7 linked regions of the Homo sapiens genome follow. The protein of the gene in region 7 purifies or fractionates together with the protein of the main gene of each other region. This does not show direct contact. Each region holds a gene or a part of one and is shown on either strand. Other genes may lie near its edges. The genes, in order: FIP1L1, P3H1, VSIG1, PAPOLA, WDR33, USP24 and SYMPK.

Region 1 (4,640 bases), on a different chromosome or scaffold from region 7:
CCTTGAGTAGTGGCATGGGAGCAGACTCAAGAACAAAAAATGAGAGCAACCAAGGATAATTTACTAAAATTCACCTTAAAAAGATTGAATCTGCCATCTTGGATCTCTGCACCTGGTGTAACTTCCATAGTACAGTCTTCGGCCTAAGTTAAATAACATATTCCCCATTAAGATACCACATAATATTTAATTAATAGGCCATATAAAGACAAACTAGCTGTGGCTAGTCTGTGATTTGAAAGTAAGAACATCAGATAATCATTAAATACGAAACTCTAAAAGGGAGGGAAGGGAAAAACAAACATGGTAAACAAAATGGAATTTTTAAACTATCATATAGCATTTAACCACTTTTATAGGGAAGCGATTTATTTGGGGAGTAAAAGTGGGACGGTAGACAAGCCAAGGGTATTCCGGAGTATTTATTAATTACCGTAATTTTATTTGTAGTAGAGGTTACTGGTATAACTTCAAGTCCCATTCGTATCCTCTTTTGTTTTTCACAGTAAGCTTTCCAGGTATCTTCATTAAACCCATAATTAAAATAATCAGAAAGATCAGCACCTAAAGATAAAACACAACTTTAGTGTACAAATATTTCAGCTCTATTTTTATGCAGCATCAAAAATATACTAAACTATAAAAATATAAATTTAGAGTTCTATCAGTTATCACTCTATCATTTATGGTGGCAAAAAGACTATATCATTTTTGATCAAATTATTCCCTTTACAAACGCCATTATAATAAACAATAAGTCTACATTTTAAGTAATACAAGGCCACCAGTAAGATTTAATAATCCCAAGTCATTATTACTCATCATTTGCTTAAGACAATTAAAATTATAATGAAAAAATAAAATTCTAAATTGATGTTCAAAAAAATTTTCTGATGACTTCACACTGAAAATATTGAAATTAATATAATCCACAATAATCTTACCAGGTTTACGCCATGGTTTATCTTCAAAAGAATCCAAATCTACCTCTAAGAGTGGAACTCCATTAATGCTTCCAGGTGCATCAAGGTCTACTCCTTTGACTTTTGTCCCTGTTTTATAAAATTACAAAATGAAGGAGCTATACTTGCAAGAAGCCAGGCGATACCATAGACAAACAGAAAATATAAACACCTTTTTACTATTCCTGGCACATATACACACACAAACAGAAAACAAACATCTTTTTACTATTCCTGGCAAAAAACCTGGCAAGGGTTCCAAACAAAGCAGAGCCTAAAATACGTGCTACTGGACTCTTGCCAGAAAAACTTTACCAGTCTCTGTGATGTACGGTCAAAAATTACTCTTTAAAAAGAGCTATTATCACCTTGGCCGGGCGCAGTGGCTCACACATGGAATCCCAACACTCTGGGAGGCCAAGGCAGGTAGATCACTTAAGCTCGAAAGTTCAAGAGCAGCCTGAACAACATGGTGAGACCTGGTCTCTACATAAAAATACAAAAATTGGCCAAGCATGGTGGTGCACGCCCGCAGTCCCAGCTACTTGAGAAGGTGAAGTGGGAGGATGGTTTGAGCCCAGGAGACGGAGGTTGCAGTGAACTAAGATTGCGCCACTGTACTCCAGCCTGAGTGACAGAGCCAGACTCTGTCCCCGACTAAAAAAAAAAGCTATTAAGACCTATTTAAGATATGTGCCTTATTTCCCTATTGATGCAACAGAAAATACAAATTTTACCTGTAGTTCCATAAACTCTTCCCCCTGTCTTGATGTTAAGATTTACAGGTGCTGTACCATAACTCCTAAAAACAAACAAACAAAAAAAAACAGAAATTATCCTGAAAAGCTTAAACAAAACAGTAATATATTCCATTTGTACAAACAAATTATACAATCACATAGTAAATGGATAGTGTGACACACATTTTATTTCTATCTTTATTTTTTAAATTTTGTATAGATGAGATCTCATACCATGTTGTCCAGGCTGGTCTCGAACTCCAGAGCTCAAGCAATCCTCCCACCTTGGCTTCCCAAAATGCTGAGATTACAAGAGTGAGCCACCGTGCCCAGCTAACACATATTTTAAAAAACATTTTAAACTGATTTTTAAAGTCACTTGCTCAATAAAAGGCAAAAACAGTAAAAAAAAAAAGCCTGACTTGTTTCCATTTCAAAAACCTTTTTGCCAATAACTCAACATTCTACTGTAACAAACTTCACAAGAAATAAGGCTAAGAAGGGAAAAATAGTTTACACCCCTTGTCTTCATTTCCTTGCCTCCCAGTTATTAAATATACAGCACTCTTAAGCATAAGTAAAATTCCTCCAACTTGTTGTCAAATCTAGTGGCCTTTCAGTTCTTCTTGCATTTGATATTGTTAATAAATCCTTTTTCAACTATTCATGGAGTACTCAGTCCATAACAGAAATTTATTGACAAGAAATTCAAAAATAAGTCTAGCATGAAAGCAGAACAGTGTTTGCCGGTGGTGGGTGGTTAATGACCAAGAGGCAAAATGAGAGAAACTTCTAGGATGCCAATTATGTTTCATATCTTGATCTGGCTGTAGTTACATGAATGTATATATTTGAAAAAATATTAAGCTGCACCTTTTTAGATGTAATATAATACACAGTGATAAAGAAAAAAATATCTGAAGTTGGACCAACCCACATTCAAATGTTTTGTCAATTGCTAGTTGTGTAATCTTGGCCAAAACACCTAAGACTTGTATACAATTATTTGAATAATTCATTGCATTTTTACTTGTATAAATGAGCCTTGTATACATTTTCTGTAATACGGGGTTACAGACAGTTCTTTACTTCTTTATATAATGGATTCTTATATATGAGTAGTATTATCAAATATACTAATTAAAAGAGACTTTTCTGTTACTAGGGAAGTTAGAAGAAAACGGGAATGGGCAAAGAAGGACCAACTCCCACTGAACAAAAACATATCAGTAAGACGGCCGGGCACGGCGGCTCACGCCTGTAATCCCAGCACTTTGGGAGGCCGAGGCGGGTGGATCACGAGGTCAGGAGATCAAGACCATCCTGGCTAACACCATGAAACCCCGTCTCCACTAAAAAATAGAAAAAACTAGCCAGGCATGGGGGTGGGCGCCTGTAATCCCAGCTACTCAGGAGGCTGAGGCATGAGAATGGCGTGAACCCAGGAGGCGGAGCTTGCAGTGAGATCGCGCCACTGCACTCCAGCCTGGGCAAAAGAGCGAGACTCTATCTCAAAAAAAAAAAAAGATATCAGTAAGACCTCAAGTCACAGATGTTTATAATGATATATTTCTCACATTATATTCATGTTATATATTTGGTTCTTTTCTCTCAGAACTTCAGCCATCTGGACTTCAGATTCACTGCTTTGGGTCTAATAATAATTACTTCCATCTTTTGTCTCTGATGTACTACATTTAAGACTTAGGTTTAGTTACATTTGCACTGTCACTTTTCTTTTCTACTTAAAAAAGAAAAATGTAAATTCAATAAAATGTTTAATTGTATCAAATAACTGTAGCTCCACAGCTAGAAATGCAAAAATTACAAAGTGGACCAAATATTACTACTGTCAAGCAGTACTATCGTCACCAACTTGAAATAATCATTTCATAGGCTGATTAATTCATGTAATGCTTACTGAGCACCAAACCATGTCAAGTATGGTTCTAGGCTGAGGAAAAAGTATGAGGAGCTGGACAATTACGGTTCCTGCCTTCACGATGTTTACATTTTAACAATCCAAATTCAGAAAAAGTGACTTAGCGGTATCTACATATGATGTACATGATTTTTCTACAAATGTACAAAAATCAAGGATTTTCTCTAAACTGTTCTCTTACAGGACCGTATAGAATAAAACAGTATTTTTATAAAAGGCTTAGCCACAAGTGTTCAATAAATGAGCTTCTTCGCTTTCCACCTAGCTACTTTCTATTCCCCATTCTGCCTTTTAAAACATCATTTTTCTTTTTTAAGCCACAAGCCTTTGTAGAGAAGCCTGTGTAGAGAAGCTTAGTGGTATGAAAAATTGCAGAGGCAAATTTGATATAATGTCCAATAGATCCCTATGAAGTCTCAGACCACTCTAAATGCTAGATCCTATACTTGGACTTTCTATAGGAACTCCAAAATAAACATGTCAAATGAATCTGTTTTGTGGGAGGTGGGAGCAGTAGCACCCACCTGTACCCAATTAACTGCTCTAGAAATCTTTAAGTCACTGAGCCCTTTATCTCCTCCTCCATCCACAACCAACCAGTTACCCATGTTATTTGTTTCTATTTATTCTTTGAGACAGGATCTTACTATATTGCCCAGGCTGGCCTGAAACTCCAAGGCTCAAGCAATCCTCCTACCTCAGCCTCCCAAGTCCATGGGACTACAGGTGTATACCACATGCCTGACTATATTTCTGTTTCTCTAATACTCAAATGTACTATTTTCCCATTCATCTCTCTACTACTGCTGCCTTAGTCTAGATTATCATCTCACCTGGACAACTACTTCACATCTATTAGTCAATGTCTCTCTATCTAACCCATCTCAACTACTGATGCTAGAGTTATCTTTTCAAATGATATGACCTGTCTAAAAACCTAATTAGGGGTGTCTAAGGGAGAGAATACAGTCATGAGTCCTTAGTTTCTGTTTCTGG
Region 2 (4,640 bases), on a different chromosome or scaffold from region 7:
TTGAACTCTCAACAATGCTAGGAGATAGCTAGAGAATGCTATCTCCAGATGATAGATTAGGGAAACTGAGTTTAGAAAGTAAACTTTAAGTATCTTGTCTACTGCCCAGCCAGTCAGTGAGTCATTAAGCCCAGATGTGATGCTGGCCTGTCTCTTTTCTTTCTTTCTTTTTTTTTTTTTTTTTTTTTGAGATGGAGTCTCGCTGTTGCCAGGCTGGAGTGCAGTGGCGACCTTGGCTTACTGCAACCTCTGACTTCTGGTTTTCTGGTTCAAGTGACTCCCCTACCTCAGCCTCCCGAGTAGCTGGGATTACAGGCACGTGCCATCACATCCGGCTAATTTTTGTATTTTTAGTAGAGATGGGGTTTCTCCATATTGGCCAGGATGGTCTGGATCTCCTGACCTTGTGATCCACCTGCCTCGGCCTCCCAAAGTGCGGGATTACAGGCGTGAGCCACCGCACCCAGCCCTCTTTTCTTTTGAGACGGAGTTTCGCTCTTGTTGCCCAAGCTAGAGTGCAATGGTGCGATCTCGGCTCACTGCAACCTCCGCCTCCTGGGTTCAAGCGATTCTCCTGCCTCAGCCTCCTGAGTAGCTGGGATTACAGGCACATGCCACCACGCCCAGCTATTGTTGGTCTCAAACTCCTGACCTCATGATCCGCTGGTCTCAAACTCCTGACCTCATGATCCGCCCGCCTCAGCCTCCCAAAGTGCTGGGATTATAGGCGTGAACCCCCGTGCCTGGCCACGGCTGGTCTCTTTGATACCAGTGTCCACATAGTTAATTACTAGATCATCAGTGATTTATTTGGTTGGATTCTATATATGAAACCTGTGTTACTTTGACATGCTGGAGTCCATTGCTGTGGGCATTGTGGTCTGTAGCCTATTTCTCCCCCCTTGGATTTCTTTTTTTTTTTTTTTTTTTTTTTTTTTTGAGACAAGAGTCTCGCTCTGTCACCCAGGCTGGAGTATGGTGCTGTGATCTCGGCTCGCTGTAACCTCCGCCTCCCGGGTTCAAGCGATTCTCCTGCTTCAGCCTCCCAAGAAGCTGGGATTACGGGTGTGCGCCACAACGCCCAGCTAATTTTTGTATTTTTAGTAGAGACGGGGTTTCACCATGTTGGCCAGGCTGGTCTCAAACTCCTGACCTCAAGAGATCTGCCCCCTTCGGCCTCCCAAAGTGCTGGGATTACAGGCATGAGCTACCGCCCCCGACCACCCCCTCAGATTTCTTAGAGCTATTTGTTTGAACCTCATGAGCCCTGAGCTTTGAGTCAGAAAATACTATGTCTGGACTTAGTAAAGGACCTTAGAATTTTTAGCCATCCACCTTTTCCCTAAATGTCTCAAAAATTCTTCATTTTATTTTATGCAAAAAAAAATTTTTTTCTAGGAAAATTCTTAGGCATAGTCTGTTAGCTGCTCTTTTTTCTCTACCCCTAAATCCTTGAAGCCACAGAATTTCTTCAGCTCAGGCATTACATTTGATTCATGAAATATATATATGTATTTTTTTTTTTTTGAGTCAGGGTCCTGCTGTGTCACCCAAGCTGGAGTGCTGTGGCACCATCTTGGCTCACTGCAACCTCTGCTTCCCAGGCCCAAGCGTCCTCCCACCTCAGCCTGCAGAGTAGCTGGGACTACAGGCATATAGTACCATGTAATTTTTGTATTTTTCGTAAAGACAGGGTTTCACCATGTTGCCCAGACTGGTCTTGAACTCCTGAGCTCAAGTGATCCACCTGCCTCGGCCTCTAAAAATGCTGGGATTACAGACCTGAGCCACCGCACCCAGCATGAAAACATATTATGTGGGCAGTCAGTCTTTCACAGCACTCCCCATACAATATGACCTTTGTTTTAAAATGGAACATTGCTACTTCCTGTAATCTGGGGAACCCCTAAATCTGACTTGGGAAAGAGCTACAAATCTGCCCAGGGCACTATGCTCCTAATCTGTCGTGGGTAGTTCCTGCAATAGGTGTGCTTCCTGGGGCTGGCAGGGGCTGGGCACGCTGAGTGGAGGGCTCAGGGAGGCAGGGATTTCCTGTTTATGTGGACTGCTCATGTGGACACAAACGTTCAGAGATTGGATGTGAGCATTATCCACCTTCTCATGCTTCATTCTTAGATCAACAAGTTGGAGAAAGCTGTTGCTGCAGCACACACCTTCTTCGTGGGCAATCCTGAGCACATGGAAATGCAGCAGAACCTAGACTATTACCAAACCATGTCTGGAGTGAAGGAGGCCGACTTCAAGGATCTTGAGACTCAACCCCATATGGTGAAAAAAACTTTATCCCCTTCTTTCTTTCTTTCTTTTTAAATTTATTTTAGAGACAGAGTCTTGCTCTGTCACCCAGGCTGGAGTGCAGTGGCTTGATCATAGCTCACTGTAACCTCAAATTCCCGGACTCAAGAGACCCTCTAGTCTCGGCCTCCTGAGTAGTTGGGACTACAGGCATGCATTCTTTTGTTTTTTTTTAAATGACATTACTAAGGTTGTTTTCTAATTACATTACAGAAGTAATGAATGTTCATTGTATAACATTGTAGAAATGTAGGTAAGTATAAAATAAAAAGTAATCATTTGTAATACCGCCACCTTAAGAAAACCAGTTTATATTTTGCCCTATTTTTTAAGTCTTCCGTATATAATTTTTTCATCTAATTTGGTGTTATATCATGTATGCATTTTTTATCATCTTTTTTATTTTTTTTGAGGCAGGGTCTCACTTTGTTGTCCAGGCTGCAGTGCAATGGTGTGATCATAGCTCACTGCAGCCTTGACCTCCTGGGCTCAAGTGATCCTCCCGCCTCAGCCCCACAAATAGCTGGGACTAGAGGCATGCACCACCATACCCAGCTATTGTTTTTATTTTTTGTAGAGACGGGGTCTCACTGTGTTGCCCAGGCTGATTTCAAACTCCTGGCCTCAAGCGATCCTACTGCCTTGGGCTCCCAAAGTGCTGGGATTGCAGGTGTGAGCCACCATGGCCAGCCCCATCATCATTTTTTAACTAACATTATTATCATGAGTCTTTTCTCATGTCTTCAGTTTTATTTGAAAACATAATTGTTTATGGCTGCATGATAGTCCATCTTATGCAGAGACTATATTAATTCACTAGTCACATTTTTTTGGTCATGTATGTTTTTGATTTTCACTACAATAAATGTTACAGTATCCTTCAATGTTCTCATTCTATTTGTTTAGCAGGAAAAGTTCCAAAGGAGGGACTGTCTGTGATGATATAGCATTTTATAGAGAGTTTATGGTTCCTTACATTTTAATTATAAAATAGGAATGTTAGAAACAATATAAGAATGACTTATAGGCCAGGCGCAGTGGCTAACACCTGTAATCCCAGCACTTTGGGAGGCCGAGGTGGGTGGATCACTTAAGGTCAGGAGTTTGAGACCAGCCTGGCCAATATGGTGAAACCCCATCTCTACTAAAAATACAAAAATTAGCCAGGCATGGTGGCATGCACCCGTAATCCCAGCTACTCGACATGGAGGCAGGAGAATAGCTTGAACCTGGAAGGTGGAGGTTGCAGTGAGCCAAGATTGTGCCACTGCACTCCAGCCTGGGTGACAGAGCAACAGTCAAAAAAAAAAAAAAAAAAAGAATGACTTTTAAAAGTAAGTTGTGGCCAGGTGCAGTGGGTCACACCTGTCATCCCAGCACTTTGGAAGGCCAAGGCGGGCGGATCACAAGGTCAGGAGATTGAGACCGTCCTGCCTAACATGGTGAATCCCTGTCTCTACTAAAAATACAAAAATTAGCTGAGCGTGGTGGTGTGTGCCTGTATTCCCAGCTACTCAGGAGCCTGAGGCAGAAGAATCGCTTGAACCCAGGAGGCGGAGGTTGCAGTGAGCCGAGATTGTGCCACTGCACTCCAGCCTGGGTGACAGAGCGAGACTCCATCACACACACAAAAAAAAGTAAGTTGTGTTGGCCGGGCGTGGTGGCTCATGCCTGTAATCCCAGAATTTTGGGAGGCCGAGGTGAGTGGATCACTTGAGGCCAGAAGTTCAAGACCAGCCTGGCCAACATGGTGAAATCCTGTCTCTACTAAAAATACAAAAATTAACCAGGTGTGGTGGTGTATGTCTGTAATCCCAGCTTCTCAGGAGGCTGAGGCGCTAGAATCACTTGAACCCAGGAGGTGGAGGTTACAGTGAGCTGAGATCATGCCACTGCCCTCCAGCCTGGGCTGTCTGTCTCAAAAAAAAACTCTGTCTCAAAACAAAACAAAACAAAAAGTAAGTTGTGTTTATTTGAAAACTGTTAGCCCTACAAAAAAGTGCAAGAACCTAGGCCAGGCACGGTGGCTCATGCCTGTAATCCCAGCACTTCGGGAGGCCGAGGCGGGCAGATCACCTGAGGTCAGCAGTTCAAGACCAGCCAGACCAACATGACAAAACCCCATCTCTACTAAAAACACAAAATTAGCCAGGCGTGGTGGCGCATACCTGTAATCCCAGCTACTCTGGAGGCTGAGGCAGGAGAATTGCTTGAACCCTGGAGGCGGATGTTGCAGTGAGCCAAGATCGCACTATTGCACTCTAGCCTGGGCAACAAGAGTGAAACTCCGACTCAAAAAAAAAAAAAAAAAAAAGTGCAAGAAT
Region 3 (4,640 bases), on a different chromosome or scaffold from region 7:
TTTGAACTTTGAGTTTGCACTCAAATCCAAAAAAGTGAGTGATCATTTGATTATATTATTTCCTAAGTCAAAATGAATCTATTATATATGAAGTTGCTGGAAATTAAATCACTTCAAATCTATCAGATTAAATATGAATATTTGGGGGATATTTTGCTGTGGTACATTAGGAGGATAATAATCCTTCTATAAGCAAAATGTTTGCCACCTTGTAGGCATTAAATGAATGAACAATCACCACCAAAATACAAGACATTCTCTCTCTCTCTCTCTCTCTCTCTCTATATATATATATATATACATATATATATACATATATATACACATATATATATACATATATATATACACATATATATATACACATATATATATATACACACATATATATATATACACATATATATATACACATATATATATATACACATATATATATATATATACACACACATATATATATATATATATATATATATATATATATATATATACACATATATATATTCTTTTGAGACGAAGTTAAGTCTTGTTGCCCAGGCTGGAGTGCAATGGCACGATCTCGGCCCACCGCAACTTCCGCCTTCCGGGTTCAAGTGATTCTACTGCCTCAGCCTCCTGAGTAGCTGGGATTACAGGCATGCACCACCACGCCCGGCTAATTTTGTATTTTTGGTAGAGACAGGGTTTCTCCATGTTGGTCAGGCTGGTCTTGAACTCCCAACCTCAGGCGACCCGCCCACCTCAGCCTCCCAAAGTGTTGGGATTACAGGCGTGAGCCACTGCGCCCAGCCTAAAAATATTTTTAAATGTTGATTAAGTGTGTACATCTTGGATTATTTTTCTTTAATAATAAGCACTTTTTTAATTATTATTATACTTTAAGTTTTAGGATACATGTGCACAACGTGCAGGTAAGCACTGGTTTTTAAAAGAGATTACACATATTTCAACCACATATGCATTTTTGTTTTGTTTTTAAATTTGGTCAAGTCAGAGAGGGACATTGCGTTCTTGGGTTTTGTTTAAATCAGATACTAATCTTTACTTTGCTATTTATTCACAGTCCTATTGATGTAGAGATTTTTCTGACTTATTCAATTTTTAAATAATTTCTCAACTTAGAATGACTTAATCCAAAGGAAGGGAACTTTTTTCCCTGACACTCAGAGAATCACCTCCACTTTAGGACTAAGTTTGCACTGCCCATTGTCTACATGTGGCTATTGAAATTTAAATCACTTCAGATTAATGAAAATTATAAAGTCAGTTCCTCAGTTTCACTAGCCACATTTCAAGTGTTTGATAATTCTATTTGGGCTACTGAACTGGATGGCGCAGAGATAGAACATTTCCATCATCACAGGAAGTTCTGTTGGACAGCACTGTAAGGGTGAGCTCAGAGGTTTTAAGTAATGTGCACTAATTGAATGATGTGACATTTTAAAAAGGCTCATCTGGAAATATATAACTTTTAGCTCTGAAGCATATCATCACTATATCATGGTTGGACAATGTCTGAAAAACATCTTTTCTTCAGAATTTAATTGGTTATGGTGCTAAGAATTGGGAATCTGGGCAATAAAATGGCCTGGAGGTTTTGCTTTGCCAACTGTTACTTATTTACATGACAATGTGTAGTACCTCAAAAAATATTGTCTCACTTTAAAATTTGAAATTACCATCCTAATTCCAAGGTGATATTATTAAACTTTTGCAGATTTCTAATTAGTTACACATTTATATATCTTCTATATTTAAAATGTTAGAAATGTTTGAATCAGATTTATATTTTCCAAATCCTTGATTTTCATTCACCTCTATTCTCATCTGTGCTATAAATGGCTTCCTGCTGCACTGAGGGATGGCAGAGATTGTGTCTGTCATGTTCATTCTTGTTTCCCCAGTGTTCAGCACTGTTTGTGGCACAAAATGGGTGCTCAATTGATATTTGTTGCTAGGCTCCACAGCCTCTTCCATGGCTTGACTTGTGTGAGTACTGTGTGTACTCTGCCATCAAACACTTTTTCCAAGAGTGGTCTTCAAAGGGGGTTTGTGGGGTTTTGTTTATTGTTTTGCCTTATCTGTTCATAAATTCTCACCCTTAACCAATCTCGTAACAGATACTGGGTCCCAAACTAGAGAACAAAAATTATGGCCAAATAATATCTCTAAAATCTCTGTTTTTAGGGAATAAGTCTGGGAACTTTAAGGGCTACCAAAACCCCAGTTTTATCCTTTTTATTTTGGACACTTTAAAGACATTTGGAAGTCATCATTTAAGCACGGCCAGAGATGTGGCTAACTTCCAGGAGAAATGAAATGGGCTCTTTGAGGGTGGGAGGGAACCATCTTTCTCCAGTGAAGTTTTTGTTGGAAAGATTAGCTGCTTTCTGAAAGCCAATTTCCTTTTTGGAGGAGGCATTATGGAAACCAGGAAAGCATGGGGAGGAGAATATTGGGAAGAGGGAAACTGTATGGAGTTAAAAAGTGCTGCATTTTTGTTTGCATTCAGGCACTTTTCTTAATTTATCAGTGCATTGGTTGCCATGTAAACAGCCAGCTTCTGGCAGGAAAGCAGCTGGACCAGGTGACCTGGCTGTGACAGAGAACACAGATATTGAATCCATGAAACCAAGAGTAATCAGTACAACGATTTTTTTTCTTTTACTTTTTAAAAGTGTTTGTCAATCCTTTAAGTTCTTTTTGTCTGACTGCTGTCATTAAGTAAGAAAAATATGAAATAAATAAGTCTTTGGGTATGCAAAATTGGGAAGATGGACAGGAATTAGTCCCTCTATGCAATTTCCTCTGAATCTTTCATAATTTCTGTATCCTCATCCCTTCACCCTCAACCCTCCAACACCCTCTGTTACCCTGCAGGCAACTAGGACAGCATAGAGAGCGTCTCTTGAACTTGACTTTCTCTTCCAGTGCTTGCCTGCCAATCCCGTGACCCATCCTGGAGAACTTTTATAGTCTTCGACAATGCAATGCATAGCAACCAGTTAATAAGATAAGACAGTGACTGTATAGTGCTCCCCAAAGTGCCATCACCTAAAATAGCCCTTTGGAAAGTGCTCATATAGAACTGAGAATTTTAGTGTAGTGGCAGGCTGGATTTGGGTAGGGTGCCCTTCGGTGGGCCTCCAAATCCTATGGGGAGCTTAATTACTTCATCTTTCTGTAAGGCCAACAGTTCTCAAAATTTGTGGTCTCAGGACAATTTTACACTCTTAAAAACTGAGGGAGATTTCTGGTCTGGACATGTAGTACAGACCTGTTTTTCATTGTTCCTCCCTGCTAAGCACAAGTATAAACCCTGGAAATAATGCAAGAGACAACCAGGGTAGAACTCTGGAAGGTTGTAAGGAGAAGGCAAACTGGTTTGAGACCCAGGGAAAAACAAAGAGCAAGGGTATCCTATGTTTCCCACCCAGCAGAAGAAAGAAACCTAGTCCTGGCCATTCCTGATACCCAACTGAACAACAGAGGGCAGCCCAGGTAAGCTTACTCCTCCCTCAGAGTCCCTCTGACAACATCAGGTAGGCCCAACACCACAGGTAAGGGGGGATCTTCAGAAACCCCACCAACAACAGTGGACAAAAGAAGCATTTGCCTTCTCCCCAGGCCTGAGATGTCCCACTTTCACCTAGAGATATCGAGGTGGGAGGGTAGAACAGACACGAGGCATAAAGTGATGGCAAGCGGCCCAGTCTGGGAAGGCTCTGTCTCAGTGGGTGTATGACTGTCCTCTCCTACCCATAGAGACACCAACAGTGCAGGGCGCCAGTAGAAGTGTCCCACCATACCTACCCCAACTGAGAGGCACCTGGAAGCCTGACCTAGGGAAACCTTTCTGCTCCTTCAGGCGATATGATCTGGGACAAATGTCAGCCTCAGTGATATCCGATAAACCAAACAGAGCAAAACAATACTGAAAATTAAACTGCTGTTAGAACAACAGACCACAAAAGTAAGCCAACACCTGCTTGCATGTGAAGCATAAATAATGTGACTGACTGCAAAAATAAAAAATGTAAATATGAGTTTCCTAACATAGTAGACAAAATGTTCAATCAAAAATCATCTGTCATACCAAGAATCAAGTAAATCACAACTTGACTGAGAAAAGGCAACTACTGCCAACATTAAGATGAGTTCGATGTTGGAATTATCTGACAAGGATTTCAAAGTAGCCATCATAAAAATGCCTCAACAATCAATTAACATTATCTTAAAACAAATAAAGAAAAAAAAGGAAACTTGCAGAAAAGAAAAAGAAGTTATAAAAATATAAGAAAGAAGGAAATTCTGTCATTTGCTACAGCATGAATGAACCTGGGGGACATTATGCTAAGTGAAGCAAGCCAGACACAGAAAGACAAACACCACATAATCTCACTTATATGTGAGATCTAAAAGAGTTGAACTCAGAATTAGAGTAGAATGGTTACCAGGGACTGTGGCTTGGAGGGAGTGGGAAATGGGGAGAAGTTGACCAAAGGGTACAAAGTTCCAGTTAGACAAGAGGAATAAGTTTTTAAGACCTATTTTGCAGCATGCTCACCATAGTTGATAATAATGTATGTGCATTTCAAAACTGCTAAAAGCATAAGATTTTAGTCTACACATTGGGT
Region 4 (4,640 bases), on a different chromosome or scaffold from region 7:
CTGCTTGAGGCTGTCTTCGAGATCAGCCTGGACAACATAGTGAGACTCCATCTCTACAAAAAAAATTAAAAATTAGCCAGGCATGGTGACAAGCGCCTGTAGTCCCACCTACTTGGGGGGGCTGAGGTAGGAGGATCCCTTGAGCCCAGGAGGTTGAGGCTACAGTGAACTGTGATTGCAACACTGCCTCTAGCCTGGGTAAAGTAAGACCCTGCCTCAGAAAAAAAAAAAAGAAAAAAAAAAACAAACAAACATGGCAATATTTTTAAAACAGAAATGGAAATGTACAAATACCTGGTTGTCAGTTTAATCACAATTATCAAGTTTGATGTATTAAGTTTGTTAAATGCATCTACTGGATATAGTAAGTCTAGTAAATACATATGCTGAATTAAAGTTAACTGTTTAGCTCTTCATCTATATGAATTATAAATTGATTACATACTAAAAAGTACCCAAATTTAGGCAAATAGCCTTATATTCAGCCAAAAATACCTCTCAATAAGGGGAGATCTCATTATACATGAGAACTTAATAGTACTCAAATATAAGGCAAACATCCTTACATTTAGCCAAAAATAATTCTCAATAAAGAGATTCCATTATATCTGAGAACTTTTATGTCTGTAATACTACAGTATGTTTTTCCAACTGAGTTTTAAGTAAAACAAAAACACTGGGGAAAGTACAGCCTAAAACAACCACAGTTAAGGCTAATTTTGAAGACATAGAATTCCGCTGACAAAATTGTTTCTTTTCTAAAGGAAAGGTGAGAGTGCAAAGAAACAGCACAGCTTTGGTAGTTATCCCTGAGGGTATGATTTCATGGTTCCAAAAATGTGGATGTCGCTGTAAACAAGCCTTTTATAAGATCACTTTTTTTTTGTTTGTTTGTTTTTTTGTTTTAGACAGAGTCTTGCTCTGTCGCCCAGGCTGGAGTGCAGTGGCAGGATCTTGGATCACTGCAACCTCCACTTCCCGGGTTCAAGTGATTCTCCTGCCTCAGTCTCCTAAGTAGCTGGGACTACAGGCACACGCCACCATGCCTGGCTAATTTTTTCTATTTTTAGTACAGACAGGGTTTCAACGTGTTGGCCAGGACGGTCTTGATCTCCTGACCTCGTGATCCACCTACCTTGGCCTCCCAAAGTGCTGGGATTACAGGCATGAGCCACCGTGCCTGGCTACTAGATCACTTTTTAAAAAGCAGTATTTTAGGAGCACATTTTAAAATATCATTTAAACATACCTACAGAAAAAAAATTGTACTGTTACACAAATAAGTACTTGTGGTCTAGGATAAACTGTTCAATGAAAAAGAACAGATTTCAAAGTCTCCCCCAATTTGGACAGAAATAAAGATTATAGGCTCATAAAACTAGGTAACTGAAAAAGCAACTCAGTAATAATACTGACACATTTTTTAAAGGATGGAATTACTTCAAAAAATATTGAAATGTGAAAATGATTACTAAATTTCCTAAAATATTATGTTCCTAAAATATTATTTTTTAATATAGCATGTATAATAGAAAATTAACACATTAAATGTTTTAAGTAGCCATCTAACTTTCCATCTTGATCCTGTAAAGTTTACAAAGTTAGGTCAGGTCTCCTTCCAAAAAAAAGTCCTCTTTGTCAGTAATATTCTTTTTAGGAAAATGAGGCCTCAACTTATACTTTATATTACAGATTATTTTTACGTTTACTTAAAACACTGACAGTAAATCAAAACTACATGAACTTGATAATCCTTTACCAAATTTAACATTTTATGTCTACTTATTAAGGTCAGTCACTTGACTTTTCATAAAATACAGAGTTGAGCGTCTTATGCAGCAACCTTAGATGCAGCCATTTTTTTGCAAAATAGTACAACAGTGAATTATCTTTTTTATTTTTTAAAGAGATTAAGTCTCGCTACATTGCCAGGCTAGATTTAAGCTCCTGGGCTCAAGAGATCCTCCTGTAGCAGCTTCCTGATAGGTGCACATCACTGTGCCCAGCTTCAATAAATTATTTCTCTTACAGTTTCCAAAATGTTACAATCTTCACTTTATTATCTGTGACTTTCCAGTACCATTCTGTACAGCAAAAGTAATGAATTACTAAAGTTGCTTCACTGTCAACTTTATTCTCATCACTTTAATTACACACACCGAAAGCAGCAAGGAGAAATGAACATCATCTCAAGAATTTGAGTCCATAAATCCTCCCCTATCGGAAGATATTTCAGCACTCACACTTTTCTCCCAATTTTTAAATGAAGTCAAAGCAAAGCATTACTTGCAAAAACACATTATGCTACTGCCTTAATGAGACTAAAAGCACACAAAACTGGCATATGGAAAAGCTACCAAAAAAACTTTTTTGTAATAGCATTTCAATCTTAAGGTTTCATTACTTCTGTTTTAGCTCCAAATTTCACTTGGTATTTTTAAAAAGATTTAAAATGGTATATTCTACAAGAATAGGCAGTCACTTCCATTTAAAAGCCTTAATTGTTATTAATATCACAACCAACTCACTAATTATAAACTTTAAACCAAGTTTTTAACCTATATCAATCAAAATTAGTGACAGCACATAGCAAGAACTGTCAATTTGAACTATACCTTACCTCTATCCCATCAAAACAGAGTTTAATAACTGGTACGAATGCCTCTTCAACAGCCTATAAGGAAAGTAAACAAGTTCAGGGTCTCTGAAACTACATTTTAAGCCTCTACTAGTTTTAGTACTTTAGCAAAACACCTGACACAAAAATAGCTAGCTTTAAGACTGGGCTGTTCGATCAGACAGATCAGAAATCAAGGTTCAAATATTTTACTTCACCCACTCATCAGATGTATGATTGTGGCCAGATTATTTCATATTTATTTTGTTTGCCTCAATTTCCTAATCTGTAAATGAGTTTATAATTTTAGGCTTGCTGTAAAGAATAAAACACAAACACATATGCCAAGTGTTTAGAAAGGTTTGGCAAATTGCAAGAACTCAATAAATGATGGCTATATCATAAAATTCACTCAACTGACTAAATGAATGTTCATAACTCATCCCATTTCACCCCGAACATTTACGCACTCTTAAATCTTTTACTTCTTCCTGTAATTTCAACTTATCATAGAATGAGGTGAAAAAGTCACTTCGATCAACATGTCTTGGTGCAACACACAACGCATCAATATCAGCACCTAAAAAAAATTAAGCCCATCAACCACTAATTAATATTACAAGAAAATTATTTTGCATCCTATCATGGTAGTATTTGATGTTGAGAATCTGTTTAACATACTGGTGAGCTTCTAAAAATGTTCCACCCCTTACTTAAAATTACCAGTCAATGGAGGACAAACATGATTTTAATTGATGTGGTATATTTTGATCCTGCAGCATCCTCTATTTATAGTGGCCCAAGTAAACTGGGAGCCCAAAGAAAGATGGCTCAGCAAGTACTTTCATGGTGGAGAGGGAATTATTCAAACATACACCCAACATCTTGATGTCATTAGTCATAGCCATGTTCATTGGTAAAACAAAAATAGTTTTCCTCTATGTACTACGTATTTGGTGCTTATAGGTTCTCTACCAGGCCCCTAAATGGGACCTACAAAATAAACTTCAAGCAGAAGAATCCAAAGAAGTAGACAATGGTAAAATATTTGTCATTAATTCAGTGCTTGATAAGAGGCCAGCACTAAGTACATAGGCAGAATTTTAAAAAGGAGAATTAAAATCAATTGGGGTCATAAAAGGGAGAGATTAATGTGGAATCAGGTCAACAGTCATTTTCCTAAAAGACAAGATGCTGAGGTATGACTCTGAAAGCTATTTATTAGAACAGGAAGAACGGTGTACAGCACACAGGATATATCAAAAGTAATGTACTAATGGGACAGAGTGATGGGAGATGGAGAGAGGAAAGGATACTAGAAAACAGACAACACTATCTCGGCAGATACAGTTCATGGTTAAAGAATACAGCCTCAGCTGGGCGTGGTGGCTCATGCCTGTAATCCCAGCACTCTGGGAGGCCGAGGCAAGTGGATGGCTTGAGCCCAGGAGTTCGAGACCAGCTGGACAACACGGGAAAACCCTGTCTCTACCAAAATAAAATTAAAAAATTAGCCAGGCATGGTGGCGTGTGCCTGTAGTCCCAGCTACTCAGGTGGCTGAGGCCTGAAAATCAATTGAGCCCAGGAGGTGGAAGGTGCAGTAAGCCAAGACTGTGCCACTGCATCCAGCCTGTGCAACAGAGCAAGACCCAAAGACAGTACAGCCTCGGGATGCCTGAGTTGTACCTACTCTGCCACTAGAAGGTTGAGAAAAACTGTTCAAGCTTTATTGCCTCTTTTAGTCTCAGGCTCCTGTTTGTTATGTGAGAATAACAGTACTGGAAGAACTAAATAAGATAATGAAGATCTCAGTACTCAGTGAAAGAAAAGAAGCTCAATAAATGTTCTTTGCCGAGGTAACATTTTTATTGTGTATTTATTTGCATAGAGGAAATAACTACAAGTATAAACTATTAACTGATTATCATTGGCTATGAATACACATTTTTGGGGTTTGCTTTTGCTTAGCTATATTTTATAATTTGTCTATAAAGGTATTAGCGGGGGGCATCCATGAGTTTT
Region 5 (4,640 bases), on a different chromosome or scaffold from region 7:
ATCCTTGTGGCCCCCCACCTCCCTGATGCAGTGGAGGACCTTGTGGTCCCATTTGTCCCTGGGGTCCAGGAGGCCTAAACTGTCCCTGTGGACCTGGAGGCCCCATTTGAGCCATGTTCATTGGCATCTGCTGAGATGGATGGGGCTGTTGAAAACCTTGAGGAATCTGAGACATTGGACCTTGTCCTGGAAAAGGCTGGGGTCCGAGGAGAGGGGTGCCAGATGAGGGAGGAGGCTGAATTTGCTCAACTTGTTTCTGTGCAAGTCTTTCAATTTTAAGTTGCTGGAAAGAAAGAAAGAAAAAAGCATGTTGAATAAACAGGCCAGAGCCCTTGAAGATGACAATATTGCTATCATGTATTCTGTTAGGGGACTCTCAAACATAAAAACTGCTCAAACTCTTCACGCTCCAGTGGTAATTAGAGTCCATGCAACACTCAAGCACTGTAAGGAGTTTTAGGTTCTTTCTCATTCTTTTTAAGTCCTGGGACACAGTAGTAAGGATTTTTTTTTCCTTATTTTTTTTTTCTGTCCCCCAAGCTGGAATGCAGTGGTACGATCGTGGTTCACTACAGCCTCACCCTCCTGGGCTCAAGTGATCCTCCCACCTCGGCCTCCGGAGTAGCTGGGACTACAGGCACATGCCACCACACCCAGCTAATTATTATTTGTAGAGACAGGGTCTTGCTATATTGCCCAGGCTGATCTCAAACTCCTGGGTTCAGCTGATCCTCCCGCCTCGCCTCCCAAAGTGCTGGGATTACAGGCGTGAGCCACTGTGCCTGGCCTAGTCAGGATTATTTTTGTCCATCTTGATCAGGGAAAGCCCAATAATTCACCACTAATTCATCATTCTTGGTAGCTAACATAGATAAGAAAAATAAGAACAAGCTACCTGCTATATGAGCAGACAAAAAGGAAAAACTCTTTCATAAACAGGTGAATTCAAATTAAAACTATGTTGGCTTTATCTTTTCTATTAAAAATGTATATTTAACTTAGATCTACTCACTGCCCCACTAATTCAGTTTTTTTATGTTGTTGTTGTTGTTTTTGAGACAGAGTCTCACTTTGTGGCACAGGCTGGAGTGCAGTGGTACGATCTCGGCTCACTGAAACTTCTGCCTCTGGAGTTCAAGCCATTTTCCTGCCTCAGCCGCCCATGTCACTGGGACCACAGGCATGCACCACCATGCCCAGCTAATTTTTGTATTTTCAGTAGAGGTGGGGTTTCACCATGTTGACCATGCTGGTCTCAAACTCCTGATCTCAGGTGATCTGTCTGCCTCGGCCTCCCAAAGTGCTGGGATTACAGGTGTAAGCCACCACGCCTGACCCTAATTGGGTTTTAAAAGTCCAAGATATGACTCAAGGAAGTCACTTAAAAAAAAATTAGTCAGACGTGATGGTGCATGCCTGTGGTCTCTGCCACTCAAGAGGCTTAATGTGGGAAGATCACTTGAGCCTGGGAGGCAGAGGTTGTAGCAAGCCGTGATCGCACCACTGCATTCCAGCCTGGGTGACAGGGCATGACTCTGTCTCTAAAATAAAATAAATAAAACAAAATACATAAATAACACATTTTAAAAAATTTTAAGAAACAGGATTCTTTTGGAAACTAGTCTTCTAGCATAGCAACAGGAAATGGCGGTGTTTGTCAGACCATGGGAGAGCCCCTTCCCTTTTCCTTAAGAGCCTATCAATAAAAATGTCACCACTACCCTCTTAGATCATCTTGAATTCCCCCCTACAGAGCTTCACACACCTCCAGAAGTTGTGGGTTAGTATATTGTAATGTAGCCATTTCTTGCTCAATTTCTGCTTGTGTTTTTTTCTTCTCTTCCAATTTAATGTCTTCTTTTCTGTCATTCAGCACCTCATTTGGAGCAGGAATTGGAACTTTATTTTGCATCCAAGCCTTGGGAAAGAAGAGAATATTAAAATGTACGCTAAGTATGAAAATTACAATGATAGAATGAGAAAACCACTCTACAATGTCATCTGCTCAATCTAACCTCTGAACCGATTTTATTTCTTTTTACCTTTTCTCCATGACTCAAGTACATGACTCATGCTAATTCTTACTGACATATTACTAGGTAGAAATTACTATGGTGATAAAAGCTGCAAGACACTGCATGTTATTAAGAATGCAAAGCTTGCCAGCCTCTTCACAGGGTACATGCACTTTGTGTTGAGGGGACAATTAAAGCACAAGATAGATAAACAATGGAGAAGAGAAGCAACATACTCCCATACTCCCTCTGCTCCATGCCTCTTTCTTCTATTTCCTCTCATAGCATGGATGATAATAAGCAGGTGAGGACAGAACAGAGAAGACTGATAACAAACTCAATACAACTGCAAAGCAGTAGATGAGAACCATGTCTAAGAGTACGTGAACATGGGAAAAATGCTCCAGTACAGAAACACCTTCAACAGTGAGATAATCCAAGAGAAACCTCAAACTAACCAACCAAAACCTCTCTGCGTGGATGAGGTGGAGTCACTTTTACTTACCTGCTGGAACTGAGCAGGAATGGGTTTTGCATAAGGAACTTTCTTCTGAGGTACTTTTTTCTGATCCTTTTGCATCACTTCCTCCATTCCCCAATCTAAACCTGGAATTGTCATTTCAATTTCATTTGATTCATCTTTCCCTGTAACCGTAAAGAAAAGTGGTTTGCCTCTTAAATAAAAGAAATTGGCCACTTGATCAATGAACACATTATTGGAAGAATAGATTTTAAGTATTATGTCATTTATATAATTTTTATCAACATTTCTCAACATAAATCATTTTGGTATTTCAATATATTTATCAGGAACATAAACGGGTCAAGAAAAAATTTGTAAAAATTAAATGTGTCTGTGTAACTTCTCTTACCCATCTGTTCTTGTTCCATAGCTAATTTTAGTTGTTCTGGTATTCCCATTCCTGGAATTACTGCCAGGCTATTAGGTTCGAGGTCATCTATAAATAGTAATACACCATTGTCAATAGAGAATTTACAAAAGTAGCGACTGATAAAATTAATGCTTTATAAAAATGAATGTCACTGATGATTTATAAATAAATCTACTATAAAATTAAAATTCATTTTGTATAATCTTCCCAACATCTAACACTTCTGTAATAGAATACCAGATTTCAAAGAAGGACAGATGTGCAAGAGTCTCACCATATTCTACTCCATCTTCAGACATTCCAGGTAAAAGGTTTAGATTATATCGATCTCGCATTTTATCACCTGGTCGGTTTCGAGTCCAGAATTTGCTGTAAAAATAATTAAAGGAGAAAAGAAGCATGGCTTCACTATTTTTTTGGGCACTAAACAGTACTAGGCAGACCCTTGGTAAACACAACACATTTTTACAATTTGTTTCTTCTACAAATTTAAAATGTGAGGTCATACACTTTGGCTCACATCTGTAATCCCAGCACTTTGGGAGGCTGTGGCAGGAGGATTAAGTCCAGGAGTCCAAGACCAGCCTGGGCAACATAGCGAAACCCTGTCTCTACAAAATAAAAATTAAAAAGTTAGCTGGGTGTGGTGGCACACACCTGTAGTCTCAGCTACTCACGAGGATAAGGCGGGAAGATGGCTTGAGCCCAGGAGTTTGAGGCTACAGTGAGCTGTGATCTCACCACAGAACTCTAGTCTCGGTGACAGAGTGAGACTCTGTCTCTTAAAATAATAATAAAAATAAAAATAAAATGTGGGGCCGGGCAAGGTGGCTCATGCCTGTAATCCCAGCACCTTGGGAGGCTGAGGCAGGAGGATTGCCTAAGCCCAGGAGTTTGACATCAGCCTGGGCAACATGGTGAAACCCCATCTCTACAAAAAATGCAAAAATTAGCCAGGTGTGGTGGTGTGCTCCTATAGTCTCAGCTACTCAGGAGGCTGAGGTAGGAGGATCACCTGAGCCCAGGAAGGTTGAGGCTATAGTGAGCTGAGACCGCACCATTGCACGCCAGCCTGGACAGAGACCCTGTCTCAAATAAATAAATAAATAAATAAATAAAAGTGGAAAACTTCTGTTTTAAGTCAGAAGGCAAAACAAAATTTGAATAGCCAAAACCATATTCAATACCCAATCTCTTTATTGCAATATAAGTATTTGTAAACCACTACAAAAATATTCCCAAGAATAAGTTGGAATATAAATTACTATATCAATCAACCAATAAAAATAAACACATACAGTATTTATTTCCTGTTGCTCCATATAAAGCTTTGCTATTTCAATATAAAGCTTACCTAGTATGGTCATTTGAGCCTGAGCAGAGAATATGCCCAAGAGGATGCCAAGCCAGACTCCAGATCATCCCTTCGTGAGCCATCTCCATCCCACCCACTTCCTTCTCTACCCTGCAACAGCACCAAAGAGAGAAGATTTGTTCACAAAAGTTACCCAGCTTCTCCCTCCCCCTCAAAAAAGACATTTTCTGTTACTCTTAAAATGAAGCTACCAAAGCCTGGACTTGGACTCTGGTGAATTCCACATGTCTCGGGGTATTGGCTTGTCATTGCCAAAGGACAGTTACCCTTTCATCCAAAGAGCACTTCACAGGGGAAAAGGCTGCAAGCATTTAGAAACTAGAAAATCTATTTTATTCCTCCTTAATGACTTCCATA
Region 6 (3,253 bases), on a different chromosome or scaffold from region 7:
AGAAAAGAAAAGGAAGTTAAAGTTCATACGGTTAGAGAAAAGGTTTTCTATGCTGACTTGTGTTCTGCAATTTAAACATGTCTTCATCTGGCAACTTAATGCAATGTTTATCAAAGGGTAATAAAATGTGATAACTATTACATCTAATATTTGACAATTCATGATTATGTAAAACATGTACATTTCTATGATCTCATTTAGTCAGTGAAACAACCCAGCGACTTGTCTAAAGTCACAATGCTACTCTGCACCCATGTGAGAACGCAGAGCAGTGATAAAGCTGGGAGAGGCATTGATGGCCATTGTGCCCGCTTCACGTTGGGCACTGTGTGAGCCTCCCTGCCCTGCACCTGCCAAATATGGGCTCTGGGTCACTCCTGGGTCTGAAGGCTACCTCTGTTACCATCTGTGTGGCCTTTGGCTTACACACTTGGCGAATCGTTCTGAATACTCACCGTGTGCCATGGGGCTGATCTAGTTGGAGCTGGGGTGGGGAGGAGCAAGGACAGTCTCTCTAAAGTGACAACCTAAGCTGAGTGAGAGTTGGGGGTGAGTAGGGGGGCCCTGAGGTGGAAGGAAGAGAGTACATTTGATAAATAAAATTCAGAAAATGGGCCAGGCACAGTCGCTTATGCCTGTAATCCCAGCTACTTGGGAGGCTGAGGCAAGGAGAATCGCTGGAACCTGGGAGAAGGAGGTAGCAGTGAGGTGAGATTGCACCACTGCACTCCAGCCTGGGTGACAGAGCAACACTCCATCTCAAAAAAAAAAAAAAAAAAAAAAAAAAAATCAGAAAATGGGGGTGGGGAGGTGCGCAGGTGCTAGATCAAGCAGGACTGTGTTGAGGATTCTGGCTTTTCTCCTCATACAAAGCCTTTGAAAGGTTTTAGTGCATGAACCAGAGAGAAGCAGGGGTGGAGGTGAGGGGATCCTTACAGATGTAGGCAGAGAGGGGCTGATGACAGGTGGAGGAGAGGGACGAGCACCCTTTCAAAGGGAGCTGTCCGGGATGACATGGGGGTGCTGTGTGTGAGATAAGGAACACTGACGGAGGGCCAGCTTTGGTGGGCGCAGGGAGGAGGGGCTGGGCACATCGAGTCTGAGGTCTTTAAGGTATGCCAAGTGGAGAACGTCAAGAACAAGAGAGCTGGATGTTCATGTTCAGAAATCCAAGGTGGGTGCGGAGAGAATATGGAGTGAGGGCAGGAGGATACAGGTTAGAGACTCCACAAACCTTTACTGGTGGTCCAGAAGAGGCAGTACTAGGAAGGAGACAGAGAAGGAACAGCCAGAAGGGTTTGAGGAAAACTACGAGAGAGAAGTGTCAGGAAAGCCCTGGAATAGTGTTTCAAACGGGAAGAGCGCCAGGAGCGCTAGATGCTGCCGAGCAGTCGGCTAAGATGAGGCCTGAAAGCTGCAGGCCACCTGTCACCCCAACTGCTGAGTTGGAGAGAAGAGGGAGTTAGCAGGGAAGAGGCTGAAGAGCGAGTGAGAGATAAGAAAATGGGGAAAGTTAAGTTTAGAGAATTAGTCGAAGTTTGGCTGCAAAGAAGAGAAAAGAAGGCAGGGGCAACAGGGAGAAGAGAGGCTTTGACAGGGCAGAAGAGAGGCTTTGACAGGGCAGAAGAGAAACCAGTGTGCTGAGACGTCGCTGGGAAGGGTCTGGCAGGGTGGAGCGTTCTGGATATTGAAGAGTTACATACACATTAGAACGCAAAGCTCTGCCAAGGTGGGCGGGGATGAGCGCTAGGGGCTTTGGGTGGACAGAGGCAAACTTCCCACTGTCACAGGAGAGGAGACAAGAACAGTGCAGATGCTTGGGAATTAGTGGCCGCAGGAGCTCTCCTGTGACAGCTTTTATTTTCTCTGCAAATGAAGTAGGTGATGAGGTAATGTGTGGAGTGACCTTGGGCTAAGTCACATCACTGTGCTGGGCTGCAGTTACCTTTCTGTAAAATCAGGGTGACAGCTGCCTCACATAGTGCTTATGAGGATCCGAAAGATAACACTTAAAAAAAAATGACACCTACTACATCAGTAACATTCATTTAATGGGGCCTATTCTGTACCAAGTACTGTGAAGGGACCACAGAGGAGACTGCTGTTAAGGAAAGTTACAGACTATTGGAAAGACGTAATGATTAACTGACACTTAGTTCAGTGTTTGCACACAGTGGGTGTTCAATACATATTTATTTTCTTTTTCTACTATAATGATTGGTATTAAAGCTGTTTTTTTTTCTTTTTTTAAAAATACATGTCAAAATTTTCTTGGACTCCCCTGGCAAGCAGGTATACTTCAAGAGCACGGGAGCTTTTCTTTCAAGAGTCCACATTTCCAGGAAGGCTGGTGAGAGCAAACGAGGGACTTTCAGTAACCTGGCAAGGCAGAATAAAGTGAACAAGCTGGAACGAATCCCCCTGTGCCCTGGCTTCATCGGGACTACCTGCAGGCTGATCAGGGTGGCCAGCCACAAACACCTCGAGGCCTTCCATTCACTTCACACTGCAGCACTACTCAGCCCTGTAAACACACGGTTAGTGCATATGCTGAGCTGAGATCACTAGAGGGCAGCGCTGGTAACTCTTTGGACTCACATTCCAGAGGAAGCATCTTGTTTTCCCTCAGCTGTGGAAATTCTTTTTGGAAAGCTTAAGAGCAAGGCTGCCCTTTGCACACAAGGACATGCTGACCGTTATACCTGCTGTAGATGCCTGTCTCCGTTCTCATTGGCAGGACTACTCTCCGACCCATTACTGCTTCCTGATTGCTCTTTTTCATTCAACAAAGCTGTGGCATACGCTAACGTGTCCTGCAGAAGATTCAAACACAAGACGACAAAGTTAGGGCCCATTCAGTGGCAGCAGCAACCGCCAGGGAAGACTACCTTTCATCTGACCTTCAGTGGGACCGGAGGCCTGAGAGTGAGGCCTTCATCACAGTCACCAGAACCCCCTCAACCCCTGTCCCTTTTTGTGACCAGACTGCCCAACCTGTATGACTTTCCTTCTAGACAAATAATCTGCACAAATTTGTGTAAGTGTACACCAATCTGTTTTCTTTTCATAGAAATCCAATTGTTTCTTCTGCTTGTTCTCATCTTCAACTCATACCTCTCTTCTCAGAGGTTGCAGTTTCTGAGAAACACACTGAAAATCCTCCATAAGTGATTTAGACCACGCAAAAACAAGAGACAACTCTCACCTGAGCTGAAATGGTTCGCTGAAAGGTTTTTCCAGTTGATGTTTCATT
Region 7 (4,640 bases):
GCTCTCACAAATAAGTGAGAACATGCAAAGTTGTCTTTCGGTGCCTGGCTTATTTCACTTAATGACTTCCACTTCCATCCATGTTGTTGCAAATGACAGGATCTCCTTCTTTTTTATGGCTGAATAGTATTCAATTGTGTATGAGTACCACATTTTCTTTATCTATTACTCTGTTGATGAATACTTAGTTTGCTCCGAAGTCTTGGCTATTCTGACTAGTGCTGCAATGAATATGGAAGTGCGGGTTATCTTTTTGATACAGTGATTTCCTTTATTTCGGTTACATATCCAGCAGTGGGATTGCTGAATCATATGGTAGCTCAATTTTTAATTTTTTGAGGAACCTCAAAACTCCAAACAATTTTTAGGCTGTAGTAAGTGACATTCTCACCAACAGTGTACAAGTGTTTCCCTTTCTCCACATCCTCGCCAGCATTTGTTGTCTTTTTGATAAAAGTCACTTTAACTGGGGTGAGACATTTCATTGTAGTTTTGACTTGAACGCCACATTATTTAAAATAGTGAATTAGGCCGGGCGCGGTGGCTCACGCCTGTAATCCCAGCACTTTGGGAGGCCGAGGTGGGCAGATCACGAGGTCAGGAGATCAAGACCATCCTGGCTAACACAGTGAAACCCTGTCTCTACTAAAAATACAAAAAATTAGCCGGGCGTGGTGGCGGGCACCTGTGGTCCCAGCTACTCGGGAGGCTGAGGCAGGAGAATGGCGTGAACACGGGAGGCGGAGCATGCAGTGAGCCGAGATAGCGCTACTGCACTCCAGCCTGGGTGAAAGAGCGAGACTCCGTCTCAAAAAATAAAAGTGAATTAAAAATCTAAATGACCATCAACAGAGCATTGCTTAATAGAATGTAATGTAACTATACTATGGAATATGGTATAGCAACTATATGATTCTCACAGGGAAGGACGTCACTGATACTATTAAGTCAAAAAGGCTGTCAAACAATACATAAGAATAGTTAATATTTATGGAATGTTTACTATTCCAGCCATATTAATACACCAAATGCTCATACCTACATCCTAAATTAGATGCCATAATAACGATCCCCAATTTACCAATGAGGAATCAGGCTCAGAGACAAGGGAAAATAGGCTGTGTGTCAGACACAAGCTACTATAATGTCTCTGAGATGAAAACACAAAGCATGGCCTCATTTTTGCAAACAGAAAAGCAAACAAATGCAGACACTATGCATATACACATACAAATACCTACATGTGCACAGGAAAGATCTGAAAGGAAACATAATACTCTTAACAGTGTTTATCTCTGGAAAGCAGGACTGAGGGAGGGGACATTATTCCTTTTGATTCACCCATATTGCTTGACACCAAGTGTATATATAGTACTTTTTTTTTTTTTGAGACAGTCTCATTCTGTCACCCAGGCTGGAGTGCAGTGGCACAGTCTCAGCTCACTGCAACCTCTGCCTCCTGGGTTCAAGCGATTCTCGTGCCTCAGCCTCCCAAGTAGCTGGGATTACAGGTGCCCGCCACCATGCCCGGCTAATTTTTGTATTTTCAGTAGATAAGGGGTTTCACCATGTTGGCCAGGGTGGTCTCGAACTCCTGACCCCAAGTGATCTGCCTGCCTTGGCCTCTCAAAATGCTGGGACTATAAGCATGAGCCACCACACCTGGCCTATGTCCTACTTTTATAATTTGCAGTTAAGAAAACTGTAAAACTGCCCGGCGCGGTGGCTCAAGCCCGTAATCCCAGCACTTTGGGAGGCCAAGGCGGGCGGATCACAAGGTCAGGAGTTCGATACCAGCTTGGCCAATATGGTGAAACCCTGCTTCTACTAAAAATAATTTTTAAAAAAATTGGCCAGGTATGGTGGCGGGAGCCTGTAGCCCCAGCTACTTTGGAGGCTGAGGCAGAAGAATCTCTTGAACCCGGAAGGCGGAGGTTGCAGTGAGCTGAGATTGTGCCATTGCACTCCAGCCTGGGCGACAGAGGAAGACTCCATCTCAAAAAAAAAAAAAAGAAAACCATAAAACTAGCTAGCATCGACTGGCTCACACTCATGGAACTTCACTACAAACCTGTGAGAGTGGTACTATGTTATCGTCTCCAATTTACAAAAAAGAAAATGAAGTACAGAGACAGGTAACTTGCCCAAGTTCATGATGAGTAAGCAGTGCAGCTGGGATCTGAACCTAGCACCAGGGATCTTAACTACTGCACACACTGTTCCAGAAATTTAAAACCAAAAAAGACAAGGGGGAGAGAGGGAGGGGCGTGAAGGAGAGGAAACTGGTGCAGGGCTGTCAGGGGTGGCAGCTGAAGGCAGTACTCACTGTACTGGATGTAGGGGTGGTCACGAGGGATGCGGTCCAGGCTGATATCATGCTCCTGGCGTCGGGGTATCTCTGAGTCAGCCATGCGGGGTGACAGGGTGACAATGAGGCCCTCCACAAACTTGATGGCGTGGGTGCGGATGCCGTCATTGTCAGAGTCCAATAGCAGGATGATGTCCCCCGCCATGGCAGATACCATGTCCCAGCAGGCCTCCTGTAGCTCGCTAATGACCCGTGACTTTACCATCCACTGCCAGCAGGCCAGGAAGGAATGGAAGAGACACACAAAGAGGTGAAGACAACGCATCAATCACCAACACCCTCTGCCAATACCCAGAGAACCATGAATGATGAATACATTCATTTGGTTAACAGTTACTGAGTTCCAACTCTGCCCCAGCCCAGTGCTCGGTGATGCTGGAGACAGGACTGAGTAGTGGCCAGGCCTCGCCCTGCCCTCATGGGGATGCAGAGAGTGACCACTCAGTGTGATGAAGGCACACATCTTCAGGGTAAAGGACTAACAGTGCTGACTTCACAAGGTGGTGGTGATTAAATGGATTCATTCGTTTTATTAATGCTAATGTACATCACACCATAGAGTGTTCTTTTCCTATCACACTCCATAATCAATATTTATGTGATTCATTAATTAAGGTCTACCTCCCTCCTTGGGTTATGAGCACTGTGAAGGCAGTAAGCTGTCTTGGTCACTGCTGTGTCCCCAGCATCACCTAGCCCAGGGCTAAGCACAGAGGACATACTCAGGGAATGTCTGTTGAGTGAATAAACGGATGGTCAATGGAAGGAATGAAGGTTAAGTGCAACTTCCTGACCTAGGAGACAACGTTAGCTCTCCATGTTATCTGTTCCCACAGACCAGTGGCACATCTTGCCCATAAAGAGTATGCTCGGATGCTGGTTTTGAACCCCAACATATTAGTTTGTCAACGAGACATATCAGGCAGGATGGCCCTGGGTGGGGAGGGCGCTCTCACCTGCAGGGCCACCTTGTAGAGCTGGGTCATGGTGAGGATAGCCTTCTTCACCACGTTCACATTCTCGTCCCTCAAGAGCATGTTGAGGTTTGCAATGAGTTTCAGCAGCAACTCAATGTCTCGCTTGCTGAGGGATGGAGAAAAAAGGGGCGAGGTCAAGGTGTGGTCTTAGAGCAAGTAGGAGGAGCCTGAGGTCCAGGAGGGAAGGGAAATCAGGGACCTGTCTCAGGGGACCGGAATGGCACATCCAGAAGCTGGGAACAGTGCTTGGTGCCTCCAGACTGAGCCGCCCCTGAACCCTCTATCTAGACTGGTCCTGTAACACCAACTCCTTTGCTCTCTCAGGGCCCTGCTGTTCACATAAGGGACAGTAGGGGCAGACAACTGTGTGAATTTGGACAAGCGACTTCACCTCATTTAGAATAATAGTATCTATCCAATTGTTTATGCAATTTTTTGGGAAAATTGCAACAATACTTGTAAAGTGCTTAGAAGAGTGCCTGACATGCAGAAAGCATTCAGTAAACACCAAAAAGCATTCGGTAAACACCAGCCATTGCTACTTTAAAGCACTTTGTTTTCTGTAATCACTAGTTTTGCTTGCCTCAGTCTGAGGGCTCAAAAAGTAGGGACCCTTTCCTAGCTTGGCAATAACCCCAGCAGGGTCATTTTCATTGAAGAAAAAAATGAAGGGCCTCCAACAAATGTTCAATGAATAAATAGGAGCTCAGCACAGAATTTTCACAGCATACATTACAATCTGAAATATTAATTAAATCAGTCAAAAAATATGAAACTTAGCTGTCAGCTACATGAAGGCAGGAATAATACGTTTTTGCTCACTGCTATACTACAGCCTAACATGGATGCCTGGTACGACAGCAGTCACATGGTATGTATTTGCTGAATGGACTTTTTACAAATTCAGAAAATTTACCACAAATTCTCCCAGTAAATGGGGAGATAGGATATTTGGGTTCTGGCATTGCAGACATGAGTTAAAATCCCAGCCTTGGCCAGGCGCAGTGGCTCACGCCTGTAATCCCAGCACTTTGGGAGGCTGAGGCAGGTGGGTCACCTGAGGTCAGGAGTTTGAGACCAGCTTGACCAACGTGGTGAAACCCCATCTCTACTAAAAATACAAAATTGGCCGGGCATGGTGGCGGGCACCTGTAACTCCAGCTACTTGGGAGGCTGAGGCAGGAGAATCACTTGAACCTGTGTGGTGGAGGTTGCAGTTAGCCGAGATCGCACCATTGCACTCCAGCCTGGGCAACAAGAGCGAAACTCCATCTCAAAACAAAAACAAAAACAAA

The links.
Region 1: the proteins of SYMPK (region 7) and FIP1L1 purify together in Homo sapiens (affinity purification with mass spectrometry; 2 studies listed by BioGRID and IntAct, with this or other methods). This does not show direct contact.
Region 2: the proteins of SYMPK (region 7) and P3H1 purify together in Homo sapiens (co-immunoprecipitation; one large-scale study listed by IntAct). This does not show direct contact.
Region 3: the proteins of SYMPK (region 7) and VSIG1 purify together in Homo sapiens (co-immunoprecipitation; one large-scale study listed by IntAct). This does not show direct contact.
Region 4: the proteins of SYMPK (region 7) and PAPOLA purify together in Homo sapiens (co-immunoprecipitation; one study listed by IntAct). This does not show direct contact.
Region 5: the proteins of SYMPK (region 7) and WDR33 purify together in Homo sapiens (affinity purification with mass spectrometry; 4 studies listed by BioGRID and IntAct, with this or other methods). This does not show direct contact.
Region 6: the proteins of SYMPK (region 7) and USP24 fractionate together in Homo sapiens (co-fractionation; one large-scale study listed by BioGRID). This does not show direct contact.

The regions. Positions count from the first base shown.
Region 1 is NC_000004.12:53,386,933-53,391,572, reverse strand, and holds part of FIP1L1 (pre-mRNA 3'-end-processing factor FIP1), read right to left. Parts: intron 1,765-4,640; coding exon 1,700-1,764; intron 1,053-1,699; coding exon 945-1,052; intron 565-944; coding exon 434-564; intron 144-433; coding exon 75-143; intron 1-74.
Region 2 is NC_000001.11:42,759,972-42,764,611, reverse strand, and holds part of P3H1 (prolyl 3-hydroxylase 1 isoform 1 precursor), read left to right. Parts: intron 1-2,136; coding exon 2,137-2,289; intron 2,290-4,640. UniProt on the Homo sapiens protein: Basement membrane-associated chondroitin sulfate proteoglycan (CSPG). Has prolyl 3-hydroxylase activity catalyzing the post-translational formation of 3-hydroxyproline in -Xaa-Pro-Gly- sequences in collagens, especially types IV and V.
Region 3 is NC_000023.11:108,047,509-108,052,148, forward strand, and holds part of VSIG1 (V-set and immunoglobulin domain-containing protein 1 isoform 2 precursor), read left to right. Parts: intron 1-4,640.
Region 4 is NC_000014.9:96,525,987-96,530,626, reverse strand, and holds part of PAPOLA (poly(A) polymerase alpha), read right to left. Parts: intron 3,198-4,640; coding exon 3,088-3,197; intron 2,675-3,087; coding exon 2,621-2,674; intron 1-2,620. UniProt on the Homo sapiens protein: Polymerase that creates the 3'-poly(A) tail of mRNA's. Also required for the endoribonucleolytic cleavage reaction at some polyadenylation sites.
Region 5 is NC_000002.12:127,720,071-127,724,710, forward strand, and holds part of WDR33 (pre-mRNA 3' end processing protein WDR33), read right to left. Parts: intron 4,374-4,640; coding exon 4,263-4,373; intron 3,278-4,262; coding exon 3,183-3,277; intron 2,975-3,182; coding exon 2,888-2,974; intron 2,661-2,887; coding exon 2,521-2,660; intron 1,919-2,520; coding exon 1,766-1,918; intron 284-1,765; coding exon 1-283. UniProt on the Homo sapiens protein: Essential for both cleavage and polyadenylation of pre-mRNA 3' ends.
Region 6 is NC_000001.11:55,069,112-55,072,364, forward strand, and holds part of USP24 (ubiquitin carboxyl-terminal hydrolase 24), read right to left. Parts: coding exon 3,206-3,253; intron 2,814-3,205; coding exon 2,703-2,813; exon of another isoform or gene 2,448-2,702; intron 2,348-2,447; exon of another isoform or gene 2,287-2,347; intron 1-2,286. UniProt on the Homo sapiens protein: Ubiquitin-specific protease that regulates cell survival in various contexts through modulating the protein stability of some of its substrates including DDB2, MCL1 or TP53.
Region 7 is NC_000019.10:45,845,426-45,850,065, forward strand, and holds part of SYMPK (symplekin), read right to left. Parts: intron 3,452-4,640; coding exon 3,325-3,451; intron 2,577-3,324; coding exon 2,327-2,576; intron 1-2,326. UniProt on the Homo sapiens protein: Scaffold protein that functions as a component of a multimolecular complex involved in histone mRNA 3'-end processing. Specific component of the tight junction (TJ) plaque, but might not be an exclusively junctional component. May have a house-keeping rule.